2 separate regions of the Homo sapiens genome follow, and region 1 is linked to region 2. Evidence: fine-mapped expression QTL. Tissue or cell type: whole blood. Region 2 holds a variant in brackets; the other region holds the start of a gene. Each region is shown on its reference strand, or each on the opposite one.

Region 1 (8,602 bases), not on the chromosome of region 2:
GATCGCGCCACTGCATTCCGGCCTGGGCAACAGAGACACTATCTCAAAAACAAAAAACAAAACAAAACAAAACCTGTTTTCCAGCTCAAACCCTTCTTAAAAGCGGGTCTATCATTTGTTTCCATTTGTCCCAATGTGATAGAAAAAACAGCATGCCATTATTTTAACTTGCCTTTTCTCTGATTACTAGAGAAGCTAAACACCTTACTGACTGACTGCGATCTTCTTCAGTGAATTCCTGTGCTCCTTTAACTGTCTTGTTTCTACAACCTGTGCCCATCTTCCTACCAGGTAGGCTTTTAAAAAATAGTTTATAGGCTTAAATATTTAAAAAACAATTATTAGCCTGCTATACTGATTTATCTTTCCTTTATCACTCATTTTAAAATTCAAACTACATTCCTAGGAAAAAGAATATGAATTTCAAAACTTGAATGCATCAAAGTAACAACCCCTTTTTCAAATACGCTGGCTCAGAAGCACTGTCTTAGGGACATACTCTGCAAAACGAAGGGGCTGTAGGTGCAGTGAACGCTTGAGTCACTTCCAAGGCCTCACGCTGGAGGTCCAGAAGCCTGGGAGCTTTAGAATGGGTACAGCCACTTACTGGCGACCGCTCTGTCCTCAGTCTAATACAAAGGAGTAAAATGGGGTCTGGGACTATCTGGGAAAATGAAAACCCTAAGTGGCCTTCTTAGTGGAAAATTCTCTCCTTATTTAATGATCTCTACATGATAAAATTATATATACATTATATAATAATCTACATTATATAATCTCTACATTATTAATCTCTAAAGTTTTATGGAAAGAATTTATGGGAAAAGAGAAAAATTGGAAAAAGGCTAATAACAATATTAAAAATGGCTTTGAGTACATGAAATTGCTGTGGTATAGATGAAGTTATTCACATGGGTGTATCACATATCCACAAGTTTCTTTTTGAATCACCATGTTTACTGGTAGAGGTGATAATGATAACCTTTTAGTAAGCTTTTTTTTTTAAGCCAAGCACTACCCTAAACTCTTTATGTATAATTATCAAATATTCAATCCCTTTGTAGTCTGCTCCCAAGGGACTGTACAGTTTTTTTGAATCTTACTAGTATTTTGTCGTATATGATTGCTACAATAAATGGGCTACTGACTGAAGTCAGGAGATGAATGAAATAGTACTTGTACTGAAACATGATACAATCAAAGATTTAGGATTCTTTCTAAAAGATGGTGCAGGTAAAAAGCCTATCCACCACTGAAGGCAATGGAAGGGTATTAGGCGTCTGTGTGCTGTGAGAGAGCCTCCACTTCGGAGTCACAGATGGCCAAAAGCCATTCAGTAGGGCTGAGGACCTTAGAAGTCCTTTACTTCTACTTGGATGTCTGTGGTGATGAGAACCCACTATACGGAGGCCCTACTTATGTCGCTGGATTCTGGGGAGTGTCTGTCTAAAGCCTGACAGGTGCTGCCAGTTCCTATCCATTTCTCCCTTATTCCCTGCCCTCAAATCTAAAATATAGTAACATAAGGATAAGCCAGGAAATGATGAAAGCAGGTATGATGATGAAGTTCAAGATGGGTTGGCCACTGTAAGCACACCTGCCCCAAGTGACAAGCACAAGTTCAAGATGGGCTGGCCACTGTGAGCACACCTGCCCCAAGTGACAAGCACAAGTTCAAGATGGGCTGGCCACTGTGAGCACACCTGCCCCAAGTGACAAGCACGGTAAAAATGAATAACACTTTCACTGAAGCATGGCGTGTGGATTAGAGGGCTGTAGCTAGTGAGAATATGGTTACTTAGCATGAGTAATTCTAGGTACTTTAGTAATCCAAGTCCCCATCCTAGGATCTAAGAGCTCTGAGTGCAGAGGCACAGATCCCTGTGACTCACTGGGTTACAGAGACAAGAGATGGTTCCCCAGAATCTCCTCTCTCAGCAGTTCAAGGATTCAGTTTTCATATCTTAAAACTCCCATGTCAAAAACGTATGAAAAACTTATCTTCTCATATTTAGACCAAAGACTTTGTAACTGCTAATCAACATCGGAGTTACATAAGGTTAAGTCAGATTCAGCCAAATGAAGGAACAGACTAGAAGACAAGGTTCTCTGTTTATTGGGCTAAACGGGGCAGTAAATTGTGGCTTGTACCTCGCTTCTTAGATCTGCTTCTGGAATAAGCAGTTTATTGACAGTTATCACCACATTGGCAGAGGTTTTGCAAAAATGAAGGGCTCAATCTTTCAGTAAACGCTTTCTTAATTTTTAATCTGACATAGAAAGTTGAAGAAGTAATCTAAAAAATAGAAGGTTTGAGGAATAGTGGTTCTTCCTAGAGACCATAAAGAGCCACAACACAAATGATAGTGAAAAACGGGTTTCAATTTCCATTGAAAATACTCTAAGATACACAGGTTTGAGAATTATATTTTTCTAATTGTAACATTTTGAATTTCATTTCAATGCTGCTGTCCTAAGACAAGTATGAGAAATTAATCCTAGGTCTCCACACCTTAAGATACACTGTGTAAGGCCAGGCATGGTGGCTCACGCCTGTAATCCCAGCACTTTGGGAGGCCGAGGCAGGAGGATCACCTGAGGTCACAAGTTCGACGTCAGCCTGGCCAACATGGTGAAACCCCACCTCTACTAAAAATACAAAAATCACCCGGGCATGGTGGCAGACGCCTGTAATCCCAGCTACTGCGGAGGCTGAGGCAAGAGAATCCCTTGAACCCGAGAGGCGGAGGTTGCAGTGGGCCGAGATCGCGCCATTGCACTCCAGCCTGGGTGACAGAACAAGACAAAAAAAAAAAAAGATACACTGGGTAATCACTAACCCATTATTCCTTGTGGCGTTACGAGGTCGGACCAATCCTTGATATCCTCAAATTTCACCTTAATGAGGCTGACACCTTTCAGCTTATCGACTGGCAACTCCTTTAGGTATTCTAGACGGCTAAAGAAGAACATTTTTGGCACAGCTCCAGCCTTGAGAGCGTCTGAAATGAGCCTGCGACCTTCCAGCAGGATCTTCCCTTGTTTTTCCCGAAATGGCCTGGACTTTACTATTGTCATTACACTGCTGTAGATGGAAATAAAAAAAAAAAACAGGTAACTATCAACATCCTTGTTACTGAGACACGCTTAGTTGTAACAGAAATAAAGAGCTACGGAGAGGGCCGGGCGCGGTGGCTCACGCCTGTAATCCCAGCACATTGGGAGGCCGAGGCGGGCGGATCACCTGAGGTCAGGAGTTCCAGATCAGCCTGGCTAACATGGTGAAACAAAAACAACAACAAAGAGCTAAGGAGAAACAGAAGCTAATTCCAAAGACGCTTATTCGGCCCTCTGTGCATAATACAAAAACCAGCGGGCTGTACTGGAAGAAGTCCTCCATCGGAAGGAGGTTAAGGTTCCGCTGTGCGACGGGAAGGGAAACGAGAACATTCGACAGGCTCAAGAACCACATCACCTCAGCCTCCTGTCCCCGGGATAAGCTTTATCGTAGCGAAGCCCAGACTCTTCCCAGGTGCTGGGAGCGCGGGATGCGGACTCCTCGAGCGGTTGTTTCTCTCGTTGCTCCTGGGCACTGGCCTCAGATGGTGCCTTGCGGGGCTGCTTCCCAGGAGCGCGCTTCTGTTCCACCACCTCTCCGGAAGGAAACACCACTTTCACTGGGCTCCGCCGCAGCGCCCGGACCCAGCGCCTCGCGTCAAGGTCCCAAGCCTGGACCACCTGCAGCAACGGTCGCACGACAAACCTCGCGGGTCTCACCAGCGCCGCCATGTTCCCTGAGACCCGGGCTGCGTCACGAAAGCGCGCCGTCGGCGGCTAGTGACGTCACGGCCCGTGGCGCCCTTCGTGGACTGGGCTGTACGGTGCGCGTGACGGCTGCGTGCGGCGGGAATCATGGCTGCTCGCAGAGCTCTGCACTTCGTATTCAAAGTGGGAAACCGCTTCCAGACGGCGCGTTTCTATCGGGACGTCCTGGGGATGAAGGTGCAGGCCGGGGCCGACAGGGGCTGGCGCGCGAGGCTGGAACCGGCGCCCGAGCCGGCCCTGGCGGAGGGAGGGGAAAATGGGTGTGTCGTGAACCTAAGCCGGAGGGTGTCCGACCTTAGGCCCTGCGCGGTGTTCAGCTTCAGGAGCGTGGCGAGTTGCCGTTGGGGATCATAGGCCTTGGAGAAGGGCCTAACACGATTAGTCCCCGCGGTGTGCCCACGCACGTCCTTTCATTTAAGCCACTCGTAAACGTTTATTGAGCCCCGCCCTTGTGGAGCTTACCGTCTACCGGAAAAGACGGTAAATAAAATGTTATATAATGCTTTCTAGTTAATATTTGTGTTTTCCGGTTTGGAGCCTTTGATGTAGATAAAATCAGCGTATTCAGAGTTCTGCTTCTAGCAAGGCTGGTCTGAATAGTCCGTTTCGGATACTCAGTCTCTGAATATATGCTCCAACTCTCAACCCATCTGCTTTTCAACAGCACCCAGAAGCGGTCTGTCTCGGGTCCTGAGGAGCTGTTATTTGCAGGATTCAGTTGGTTGGGGAACTGGGTTTTGGGGACCTCCTTTGATAAGCCAGGGAGGTAGGGAACACACCACTAAGGAAGACTTGAAAGGTGCAAGAGCGCGGTTTAGTGTATAGACGGTGCAATAGACGGGGATCTGAATTCGTCAGGTCATTTTTAAAATATCTGCTATTTTCAGGGTACTACGTTGAGTTTTGGCAACAAAGGTGCAAATGACCCTGATATATATCCTCCATTAGAGCTCATGGCCTGGGTTGGGGTGGGAGTTGGAACTGGATTTGTACGTAGATGATGGTAATGGAAGTCAGAATTTGATAGTGAAAAACCACCAAACTTTCGATAGCAGAAACCACAGAGCTGTCCCTTGTTAGTATTTCCTCGTCGATCAAAAGGTTGTTGCAAAGATTAAACACGTGCCGGCGCGGTGGCCCACGCCTGTAATCTCAGCACTTTGGGAGGCCAAGGCGGGTGGATCACTGGAGGTCAGGAGTTGGACACCAGCCTGGCCAACATGGTGAAACCCTGTCTCTACTAAAAATACAAAAATTAGCCGGGCATGGTGGCACACGCCTGTAATCCCAGCTACTCGGGAGGCTGAGGCAAGAGAATCGCCTGTATCTGGGAGGCGGAGGTTGCAGTGAGCCGAGATCGCACCATTGTGTTCCAGCCTGGATGACGAAAGCAAAACTCCGTCTCAAAAAAAAAAAAAAAAAAAAGATTCAACACCTTATTATATGTATAGTATTTAACATATCGGTAATAGTAGATTATATAAGTGTTAGCCACTATTATAAAAATACAAAAGAAGGAGCGGTTTTCCAACCTGGGTGATGAGGAAATAATTCATGTAGACCTTGTATTCGAGTTGACTTTTTTTTTTTTTTTTTTTTTTGAGGTGGAGTCTTGCTCTGTCGCCAGGCTGGAGTGCAGTGGCGCGATCTCGGCTCACTGTAAGCTCAGCCTCCCGGGTTCACACCATTCTCCTGCCTCAGCCTCCCGAGTAGCTGGGACCACAGGCGCGTACCACAACACCCGGCTAATTTTTAAAAATATTTTTAGTAGAGACGGGGTTTCACCGTGTTAGCCAGGATTCGAGTTGACGTCTAAAGATAGGATATCCACAGGTAGATGAGAGGAGGAGCTACATAGTAAAACTGAAGAGCCAGTGCGGAGATGGCACATGTTTGCGAAGCCGCTGGTTTTATGTGCCTTTAGTTGAGGTTGCTTAGTTGAAGTTAAGGAGATGGGATATCAGGATGGACAGGTCGGCATTGCTTCTAATAGTATCTTGAATGCTATGCTAAAGAATTTGGATTTTATGCTGCAGTAAGATGGGAGCTCACTTATGTTCTTAAACAGGGTGGTGATGGGATCAGTGCTTTGTGCTTTAGGCATGTGCTTTTTTGGTGTTATTAAGGAAGGATATCAATAAGGATTTTTTTATTTTTTATTTTTTATTTTTTTTATGTTGAGACGGAGTCTCGCTCTTTCGCCCAGGCTGGAGTGCAGTGGCGCAATCTCGGCTCACTGCAAGCTCCGCCTCCTGGGTTCACACCATTCTCCTGCCTCAGCCTCCCGAGTAGCTGGTACTACAGGCGCCCGCCACCACGCCCTGCTTATTTTTTGTATTTTTAGTAGAGATGGGGTTTTACTGTGTTAGCCAGGATGGTCTCGATCTCCTGACCTCATGATCCACCCACCTCGGCCTCCCAAAGTGCTGGGATTACAGGCGTGAGCCACCGCGCCCGGCCAATAAGGATGATTTTTAATAGTCTGAGCGAAGCGTTGGGAACTTCAACTGGCAGGAGCCGTGGGAATCAAAAAGGAGGGCTAAAGCTAACACGTTGAGAGCCCGCTGTGTGCAGGGTTCTGTGAGATGCTTTCATAACATCCATTCCCATCACATGTTAGGAGACTGAGACTCAGATTCTAATTTGCTCAGAGTTACACAACTACTAAATGACAGAATTCCAAATCAGACTTTTTTTTTTTTTTGAGTTTGAGTTTTGCTCTTGTCACCCAGGCTGGAGTGTAATGGTGCAATCTCAGCTCATTGCAACCTCTGCCTCCCGTGTTCAAGCAATTCTCCTACCTCAGCCTCCTGAGTAGCTGGGATTACAAGCGCCCACCACCATGCCTGGCTAATTTTGTATTTTTTATATTTTTAGTAGAGATGGGGTTTCACTGTGTTGGCTAGGCTGGTCTCGAACTCCCGACCTCAGGTGATCTGCCCACCTCAGCCTCCCAAAGTGCTGGGATTACAGGCGTGAGCCACGATGCCCATCTTTTTTTTTTTTTTTTTTTTTTTTTTTTTAATTTGAGATGGAATTTTGCTCTTGTCACCCAGGCTGTAGTGCAGGGGCACGATCTCGGCTCACTGCAACCTCCATCTCATGGTCCAAGTGATTCTCCTGCCTCAACCTCCTGAGTAGCTGGGATCACAAGCACACGCCACCACGCCTGGCTAATTTTTGTATTTTTAGTTGAGACGGGGTTTCACTATGTTTGCCAGGTTGATCTTGAACTCCTGACCTCAGGCAGTCCACCCACCTTGATCTCCCAAAGTGCTGGTATTATAGGCGTGAGTCACTGTGCCCGGCCCAAATCAGACTTCTTTAATGCTGAAGGCCACACTTTTTCCCACTGCATAGCACTGCTTACCAATCTAAATAGATTTCACAACTGATTTGGTAGCCTGACCCTTGGTGTCAAGCTGTTCGTCCTTCCACTGCTTCTATCCTGGGAGAAGTGTAAAGCTCATTTGCTTTTGTTCTTTTACAAGTAAAGCTTATAAATGATAATGTTTGTGTTTTGACATTTTAGTCTGTGCTAAAGACGCTGTGAGCAGTACTAGCAACACTTCACAATTTATTCTAAATCTCACACCAGGTTCTGCGGCATGAGGAATTTGAAGAAGGCTGCAAAGCTGCCTGTAATGGGTATGATACCTTGTTTCTTAAAATCTCCTTTAGGCTCTGACTACACCCGGATAACAGAAGACAGTTTCTCAAAGTGAGTATAAAGCAGTGGAATTAATTAAGGAGGCAGTAAATTAGGGAGGCAACTTCAGGAGCGTCGGGAACACATACTGTTTCTCTGCACTCTCATGAGTATAAAGCAGTGGAATTAATTAAGAAGGCAGTAAATTAGGGAGGCAACTTCAGGAGCGTCGGGAACACATTTCTCTGCACTCTCATACAACACCTGTGGGACACAAAGGGATTCTCCAGCTCTCTAACACCAGCCGGCTGTCCTGTTATTTAATTGATTCTGACTCTACCTGGAGTTAATGTCAGATCCTGCAAGTTAAGGGCTCAGTCCCAGAAGATTTTCCGCCACGTCAGGCGCCGGTCACAGTCTGGATCTTCAGGATTTCCGATGACCAACTACAAGTCAGGGCTCCCGCTCCTGCTTCCTTGGGTTTGATAGTCTGCTACAGTGGCTCATGGAACTAAGGGAAACGCTGGAAACACTTACTTACATTTACTGGTTTATCATAAAGAGTACGAGTCAGAAATGGCTGGACAGAGGAGATACACAGGGCAGGGCATGGGGAGTGGGTGGCAGAGCTTCCATGCTCTTCTGGGCAGGCTCCAATCCAGCACCTCCCTACGTTCAGCATCCCAGAAGCTCATGAGTCTCATTGTTCAAGCCTAATAGAGCCCAGTCTCCATCCCTTTCCTTCCCAGAGGTTGGTGGATGGGACTGAAAGTTCAGTCCTCTAATCATTTGTCTTTCTGGTGACCAGCCCCATCCTGAGTCTATGTAGAGGCCCCACTCTAAGTCACTTCATTAGCATAAACTCAGGTGTGACTGAAAGGGGCTCATTATGAATATAACAAAAGATATTCCTATCAGGAAATTCCAGAGGTTTTGGGAGCTCTGAGACAGGAACCAGGGACAATGACCAGATATGTTTCATATTATGCCACAAATGCAAATAAGTACATGCTCTAGATGAAGCAGCGGCTTTCCAGTATCTTTTTTTTTTTGAGACAGAATCTCACTTTGTCACCCAGGTGGGAGTGCGGGGTCATTATCCTGGCTCACTGCAACCTCTGTCTTCTG
Region 2 (8,602 bases):
ACAGTTATTCATTGGCCTATTTCAATACTGTTGTGTCTCAGGGAATAAGGATGGAGGAGGAAGAGAGAAATGATGTAATGGTTGGTTGATGGAGAAGGCAGAACACATCAGTTATGTTCACCCTCTTATATGGGATCTGTTTGTGGCACCCCAAAACAATTACAATAGTGACATCAAAGATCACTGATCACTGATCACCGTAACAGGCATAATAATAATGAAAAAGCTTGAAACTATTCTAGAATTACTGACATGACACAAAGACAGGAAGTGAGCACATGATGTTGAAAAAATGGCACTAACAGACTTGCTGGACACAGGGTTTCCACGAGCCTTCACGTTATAAATAAGACAATATCTGCAAACTGCAATAAACCAAAGAGCAATAAAGCAAGGTATGCCTATACAGTCACTCTTCACTTAATGGCAGGGATATATTTTGAGAAATGCCCCATTAGGCGATTTCTTGTGAAAACATCATAAATATACTTTAACGAACCTGGGTGGTATAGATTACTACAATCCTAGGCTTTATGGGACATAGCCTGCTGCTCCTAGGCTACAGACCTGCACAGCATGTTACCGTGCTGCACACTATAGGCAATTGGAAGACAATGGTTAGTAACCTTACGCATGTATCTAAATGTATTAAAGGTATAGCAAAATGTGGTATGAAAGAAAAAATGCTATACCTGTCTAGGGCTCTTACTTTGAATGGAGGCGGCAGGGTTGGTATTTTGCTCTAGGTGAGTTCAGGAGTGAATGGGAGTGAATGTGAAGCCCTAGGACATTACTGTACACTACTGTAGACTTTATAAACACTGTGCATTTAGGCTACACTAAATTTATTTAAAATCTTTTTGTATCTTCAATAAATTAGCCTTAGCTTACTGTAATTAATTTACTTTATAAACTTAATTTTGTAAACTTTTTTGACTCATAACATTGAGCTTAAAACACAAATGCATTGTAGAGCTATACAAAAATATTTTTCTTTTTTTATGCAACTACATATTCAAAATTATTTATTTATTTATTTATTTAAATTTTATTATTATACTTTAAGTTTTAGGGTACATGTGCACAATGTGCAGGTTAGTTACATATGTATACATGTGCCATGCTAAATATATATGCACCCAATACAGGAGTACCCAGATTCATAAAGCAAGTCCTGAGTGACCTACAAAGAGACTTAGATTCCCACACAATAATAATGGGAGACTTTAACACCCCACTGTCAACATTAGACAGATCAACGAGACAGAAAGTTAACAAGGATACCCAGGAATTGAATTCAGCTCTGCACCAAGCAGACCTAATAGACATCTACAGAACTCTCCACCCCAAATCAACAGAATATACATTCTTTTCAGCACCACACCACACCTATTCCAAAATTGACCACATAGTTGGAAGTAAAGCTCTCCTCAGCAAATGTAAAAGAACAGAAATTATAACAAACTGTCTCTCAGACCACAGTGCAATCAAACTAGAACTCAGGATTAAGAAACTCACTCAAAACCTCTCAACTACATGGAAACTGAACAACCTGCTCCTGAATGACTACTGGGTACGTAACGAAATGAAGGCAGAAATAAAGATGTTCTTTGAAACCAACGAGAACAAAGACACCACATACCAGAATCTCTGGGACACATTCAAAGCAGTGTGTAGAGGGAAATTTATAGCACTAAATGCTCACAAGAGAAAGCAGGAAAGATCCAAAATTGACACCCTACAAAAATATTTTTCTTTATGTTCTTTTCTATAAGATTTTTTCTATTTAATTTTTTTTAATGTTTACGCTTTTTAAATTAAAAACTAAAACATAAACAAACACATCAGCCGAGGCCTGCAAAGGGTCAGGATCATCAGTATCACTGTCTTGCCCCTTTACATCTTGTTCCACTGAAAGGTCTTTAGTGGTAATAAGATGCACGAAGCTGTCATCTCCTATGATTATAATAATGACTTCCTCTGGAATACTTCCTGAAGAACTTGCCTAAGGCTGTTTTACACTCAACTTTATAAAAAATATCTGAAAGGAGAACATTCTAAAGTAATGATGAAAAGTATAGTATAGTACATATGTAAACCAGTAACATAGTTGTATATTATCATTATGTAACTGGCAGTCCAATAGTTTTGTTTACAGCAGCATCACCATAAACGTTGAATAATGCATTGCAGTACATTACAAAGGACACAATGTCACTAAATGATAGGAATTTTTCAGCTCCACTATTGAAGCACCCTCATATATGCAGTCCATTATTGACCAAAACATTGTTATGGGGTACATGACTGTATGCATACTCATATTTTGTATGAATGTGTATATGTACTTTTCTGAAGCACATACAACTCATACTAGAACTGCTATGTTGCATCCATTAGTTTTCTGTTAACAAGATTGTAGACATGTTTAAATATCAGTAATATTAGAAGTCAGATTTCTAGGTCAAAAGATGCGTGCAGTTTCACTTTGATAGTTTCTAAATTGCCCTCAGAAAGGTTATGCCAGTTTATACTCTCACCAACAGTGTTTGAGAGTCTCTTTTTTTCCCACACCTATAACAACAGATAAATCTTTCAATCCGATATGTTAACAAAGGTCTCATTGTTTCATTTACTTGGTTGTAAGAATGGTTGGCTCTGATTTATATACTTGTTGCCCCATTTTGTTCTTTCTGTAAGCACTCTCTGCTTGTGTCTTTTGACTATATTATTATACAATAATTATAAAGGCTAAAATATATTGGATAGTTATTCTGTGCCAAGCACTGTTTTAAGTAATCTGCCAGTATTACGCAATTTAAGCCCCATAATAGAAACAAGAATTATTTTAATTTTCATTTACATTTTTTTTAAAATTGAGGCAAAGAGAGATTAAGCGACATTTGTATATAGACTTACAGAAATATTAATAGATGGAGTCAGAACTTGAATTCAAGCCCAGTAGTTTGTGTGTTTACCTCCTGTGCAGCATTACCTTTTATTATCACATTGTTTGAATTTTTCATACTATGTAGGGAATACTTTTTCTAAGTTGAGAAAATTAATTCATAACATTAATAAATAGATGTATTAAGGAAATTACCCCTATATTAAATGATCAATAATCTCTTTTTTTCTCAGTAAAATATTTTTTATTTTTATTTATTCATTTTTGTGTATATTTTGTTTTCATTAAAAGGTTCTATTCAGATGTAAATCAAAACCTCTGGGACATCATACTATTTTATTAAGTTATGAGACTTCAAAAATTCAATCACTTATTTTGTTGTATCAGAGTCTAAAAATCATTTTGGTCAGTTATATTTTAAAAGACTGCTTTAAAATTTCAACAGCACCTTCCCTTTTTGCTCTTTCTCTTTGCCAGTTTAACCAATATCCTTATCTCTTCTCAGTGAACATGAAGAAGAATTCACCATTTCTATTTTGAATGTGCACAGAGATTTGTATTAAATTAATCTTAATTTCCTCTATTAAATTAAATCAAATTAAATCTTTAATGTTTGTTTACAAATTTTTTGAGAATTTTTCATGTACGATGGTGAACTGACTTTAGTTTTTTAGTACACCCTGAAAACAAACAAAAAACAAGAATGACAACTCTGCTTTTTAAATGAAGATCCTAAAGAACACAGGGATGAGCTCAAAGACATTTTCTATTCTTGTTGGCCAAATCTTCTGAAATATATATGAGAATTCCCTTTCATAGGTATAGTACAACATGATGATTTATATTCAACTTAGTACTTTTGGTTCTAAGATA[T/C]ATTCCCCCCATATCATATCTGTGTAAGTGTTGTATCTTTTTAAAATTAGATGGTATTTTTTTCCCACTTCATATTTACACTTTATGTATTTATTTATAAAATTTATCTTGGCGGCCGGGCATGGTGGCTCACGCCTGTAATCCCAGCACTTTGGGAGGCTGCGGCGGGCTGATCACTTGAGGTCAGGAGTTTGAAACCAGCCTGGCCAATCTGGTGAAACCCCGTCTCTACTAAAAATAAAAAATTAGCCGGGCATTGTGGCGCATGCCTGTAATCCCAGCTACTTGGGAGGCTGAGGCAGGAGAATCGCTTGAACTCAGGAGGAGGAAGTTACAGTGAGCCGAGATCGCGCCACACCGCACTCCAGCCTGGGTGACAAGAACAAAATTCCGTGTCAAAAAAAAAAGAAAGAAAAGAAAAATTATATTATGCGTTGCTGAACCTGAGTCACTTCAGTTGATATAAAAGCCTACGTTTTTAAAGATTGTAATTTTATATACAGCTAATTGCAGTTTGCTCTCATTATCCATTGAGGAAGGGCTCCGCAAACCCTGTGGATACAAAAAGCTGTGGATGCTCAAGTCGCTTGTATGAAATGGTAGTACAGCCAGCACTCAGTATGTGTGGCTCTGCATCGGTGTACTCAGTCAACAACCCTGGATCCAAAAGCCGGCCCTCTGTGTCCACGGGTTCCACATCACATACGAAGGGCTGACTGTAAATGACAACAATTTTCTTTAAAATTATAAAATATTTTAAAATATTACCCAGTAGCTGGGGAAAAGGAAAGGCAGGCGCTTAACATATGTGCCAGTCATGAACCTAGGTATTTTATACAAATTAATTACTCAGAAAGCTTATGAGGCAAATATTATTATTTTCATTTTACAACGGAGTGGCTCAGCGAGATCACTACAAACTGTTTTGGCTCCCAAGCCTACGTTCTTTCTTCAGCAGGATGACATTTTATACAGCATTATCACCAAACATAACTCTGTCCTAACACTGAAGACATGTTTTGGACAAGAGTATATTTTGAATATGAAAATGTCATTTGACTATATTAACTTCCATTTTAGTAGAGCTGATGTTGCTCTGTAATGAAGTGAATAAAATAATAATAAAAACTAACATTTACTTCATAAAAACACATTTGAGTTAAGTTTTATAAAGCCATTCAAGCACTTAACTCACTCACTCATGTAATAGTTATTTATCTTGAACTTACTAGGTCCAGAAAAATACTCTGTGTTTTAAAACCTGGGCTCTACCCTACCAAAAACGGAAAAGAAGCTGGAAGAAAGCACTTGGAAAAGTAAAACATATTTACACTTGATGAAAAAATATGGCACGTGAAAAGTTGAGTCACACTTGTGAGGTTAAAATGTTTACTGCCAATATTTTTAAAACTTTGGAGCAGAATGAGGGAAAAATGTAAATATTCCATATCTAAATGTTATGTATAAAATATTAATATTATACTGCATTTCTTTCTAGAATATTTTCAAAGTACATCGTTTATGTATTTTAGGTCAATGTCTTGTTAGCTACACATCACAACCCATTTTTTGGTCAATAAATCACTTTAACAGGTCACAATTCAAATTCTTTTAAAATTAAATTAAAACAGAGAGAAAAAAGAAAATGTCAATATACATTATATTTAATGGGATGACTATTGTTTTGAAAAACCTTTCTTTTTTTTTTTTTTTTTTTTGAGACAGAGTCTCCTTTTGTTGCCAGGCTGGAGTGCAGTGGCACCATCTCGGCTCACTGCAACTTCTGCCTCCCGGGTTCAAGCGATTCTCCTGCCTCAGCCTCCCGAGTAGCTGGGACTACAGGTGCGCACCACCATGCCTAGCTAATTTTTGTATTTTTAGTGTAGAAGAGAGTTTCACCATGTTGGCCAGGATGGTCTCGAGCTCTTGACCTCATGATCTGCCTGCCTCGGCCTCCCAAAGTACTGGGATTACAGGTGTGAGAAAAACTTGTTTTATTTGTGTATTATGTATGCATATATGAGGGTCATAGGTACAATACACTTTTTATTTTTAAAAATGGAAACTAAAACATCTGAAAAACATTGATTTAGATCATTTCATATGTTAGATGTCAAATTCTGCTTTTTCATAAAAATAGCATTTTTCAACTTTTTATATTTTTTTAAATAAATACAATTGTCTCCACTCATATAATATTCCCTCAGGTTGTTCTCATTAAATTTGATCAATTACTTCATTTTGGGCATTTTGGTTATTGATATTTTTTACTATAACAAATAATGTAGTGACTTTGTTAGACTTTACATTTACTTTCTTGAAATATATTCCTACAATTACTACTATGAAGTAAACAGACAATAACAATTAAAACAGTATTTAGAACTACTGGTTATTTAATTTTACTTATTTACGTTACTACATTGAAATTCCTACTTATTTACAAGTAAAATGTGACATTACAGTAAATTTAGAAGAGAAAAAACACACACTTTTACTATACAAACACTATAATTTTTTTTAAGTATTTACTCATTGTTTGCAATGACTATTTTTCAAGGCGCAAATCGTCTACCTAAAACAAATCGCAATACTGAAAACTAAGAATAAATGAGAGGCACTGGTACCTGGAAAGGTGGACACAAGACAGAGGTGTGAACCTGCCTTCGTTTAAAAAAATAGAAAAGATATTTGTATAAGAATCTGCATAACATACACATTGTAAACAGAGAGCAAGATGCTCACATGATGGAAGAATAACTGTCTCATGCCATTAAAAAGAGAGAACATTTTTTTCTTTTTCAACAAAGATACTCAAAATTATGGAAATACTTATTTTGCATGGGGATTTTCATTTTTAGTACGATCCTGAGCAAGGGCCCCAGACTAATTTGCTGACCAAGAAATGATGAGCATGAGGACAAGCCGTACCATTCAGATTCATGGATCAAAAAGTCCAAGATCAACTACCAGTAACAAATGTTAAAGCTGTCAAAAAATACTCAGAGCAACAAGCTGGAATGCATTATGCAGCAGCCTAAGGTGAGGGATTACCTCCTGTTTATTCAGGCAGCTCAAATGTGGAAGCAAAAGCCACTGTACCTGATCCGTTATGACTTTGAAAAGTGAAAAGAACACACACTAGTTAACACACAGAGTTCGGAATTGGCAATTAGCTAGCCCTTGGCCTGAAGAGTGTCATTCATTTATGGACCAATGACCAGGAGCCTGGCAAAATGCTCCTTGCTGATTAGGTTCAGAAAATTCTAAGTGGGGAAAAGAGGAAGATCCTTTAGCAACACAATGAGGCCTGCATTTTTACTAACCTGGAGAAATGCAAAGGTTTGATATTATTTAAAAAACAAAAATGAAATTCAATGTGGAAAATCTGTTACATAGGGATTGGGGGAGGAGATATAATTGTGTTATCTTCCAGCATCCAAGCCTTACGTGTATAAAGAAACAAGAAGGTAATTAGGAATACCACAAGATTTCCCAAAGGCTGGATTTATCTTGTGTAACAAATTCTCTGGCAGCTTTCTAACATTGCTATTTGGGCCTCCTGTCTAAATGACCAGAGTGAATCATTCAAAAGTTATGTTGAAAAAAATTTATTAAGCTCTCAAAAAACTCTATTCTTCCCACATCATACTTGTTTCTGTAAATTATCCTGCATACTAACTCTTTCTCTCTTCTGCAAATACTATTCAGCAAAGCAGGACAGTGAGGAAAGCAGGACAAAGAGTACTGATAATCAATGCTCTTATATCCCAAATTTGTACAGATAATTTCTACCATTAGAGATTTACTACTTTGTGTCAGCATGTCTTTTTTTAAAATGTTAACATCAAATTGGGATACCATATAAAAGCAATAAATGGTCACCCATTCTTTAATATAAATTAAACAAGTCCAGCGCTTTCTTTCAAACAGCAAGTTTACTGTATAACTTGGGCGAAATGGGAGGTATGCTGAGAGAGAAGAAAGAAAACATACTGGAACACAATTGAGTCTTGAGAAGAGGCCATCCCAGTAGACATAAAGTCAACCAGAAGTCAGAAGTGGGACAAAAAGGATCTGACTTAAGAATTTATTAAGTGGCTGCAAAATATTCAAAGACTATTTTATTTCTGCTTGCCTCTTTCCCCTGCTTTTTACATTCTCTTCTCCTTTCCTTTTTCACTTAGAATTAGGAGAGCAATAAACTATGGTTTCTGCACTCAAGAAGTTGTGGTCTGTTAAGGAAAGTAGCACCAAAGACAACTATCTGTAATGCAATTTCAAGGTCAAGGGAACTCTAATCACAAGTGGTTAAGTCTATGGAGTCAGCAAAAGAAGGTTTCAAAGAGTGAAGAATCTTTCATTTGGAGCTTGAAGAACGACTTTCTAACAATTTACTTGATGTTACAGTAACTTCCTGCTTAAAATCCAAAGTTCTATTAAAAATATATACATTCATCCACAACAAGAGTAGAAATATTAAATCAGACAACTGAATTGTTAGTGTGTCTCAAATGTAAAATTATATTTTAATTTCTTTTCTTTCTTTTTTTTTTTTTTTTTTGAGACGGAGTCTGGCTCTGTTGCCCAGGCTGGCGTGCAGTGGCTCACTGCACCCTCCGCCTCCCGGGTTCAAGCGATTCTCCTACCTCAGCCTCCCAAGTAGCTGGGGCTAAAGGCCTGTGCCACTATGCCCGGCTAATTTTTTGTACTTTAGTAGAGACGGGGTTTCACCGTGTTAGCCATGATGGTCTCGATCTCCTGCCCTCATGATGTGCCCACCTCAGCCTCCCAAAGTGCTGGGATTACAGGCATGAGCCA

Evidence for each region. PIP is the estimated chance that this variant, and not a neighbour inherited with it, causes the effect.
Region 1: it holds the start of MRM3, and the variant in region 2 is the best candidate, but not a certain one, in a credible set for the expression of MRM3 in whole blood (TOPMed, PIP 0.55).

Annotation. Positions count from the first base shown.
Region 1 is chr17:777,566-786,167 of GRCh38, reverse strand. It overlaps MRM3 (mitochondrial rRNA methyltransferase 3), which reads right to left and starts at 3,815. Exons shown (of 4, transcript NM_018146.4): 1 at 3,476-3,815; 2 at 2,841-3,085. The coding sequence starts at 3,789. It overlaps GLOD4 (glyoxalase domain containing 4), which reads left to right and starts at 3,888. Exons shown (of 9, transcript NM_016080.4): 1 at 3,888-4,002; 2 at 7,424-7,473. The coding sequence starts at 3,913. RefSeq lists enhancers at 3,288-3,836, 3,508-3,857, 4,858-4,957.
Region 2 is chr11:99,504,273-99,512,874 of GRCh38, reverse strand. All of the region lies in intron 2 of CNTN5 (contactin 5), which reads right to left. Among named protein-coding and RNA genes, the nearest start is that of CNTN5, 490 kb to the right of the region's middle. The variant T/C (reference allele first, on the strand shown) is at 3,782.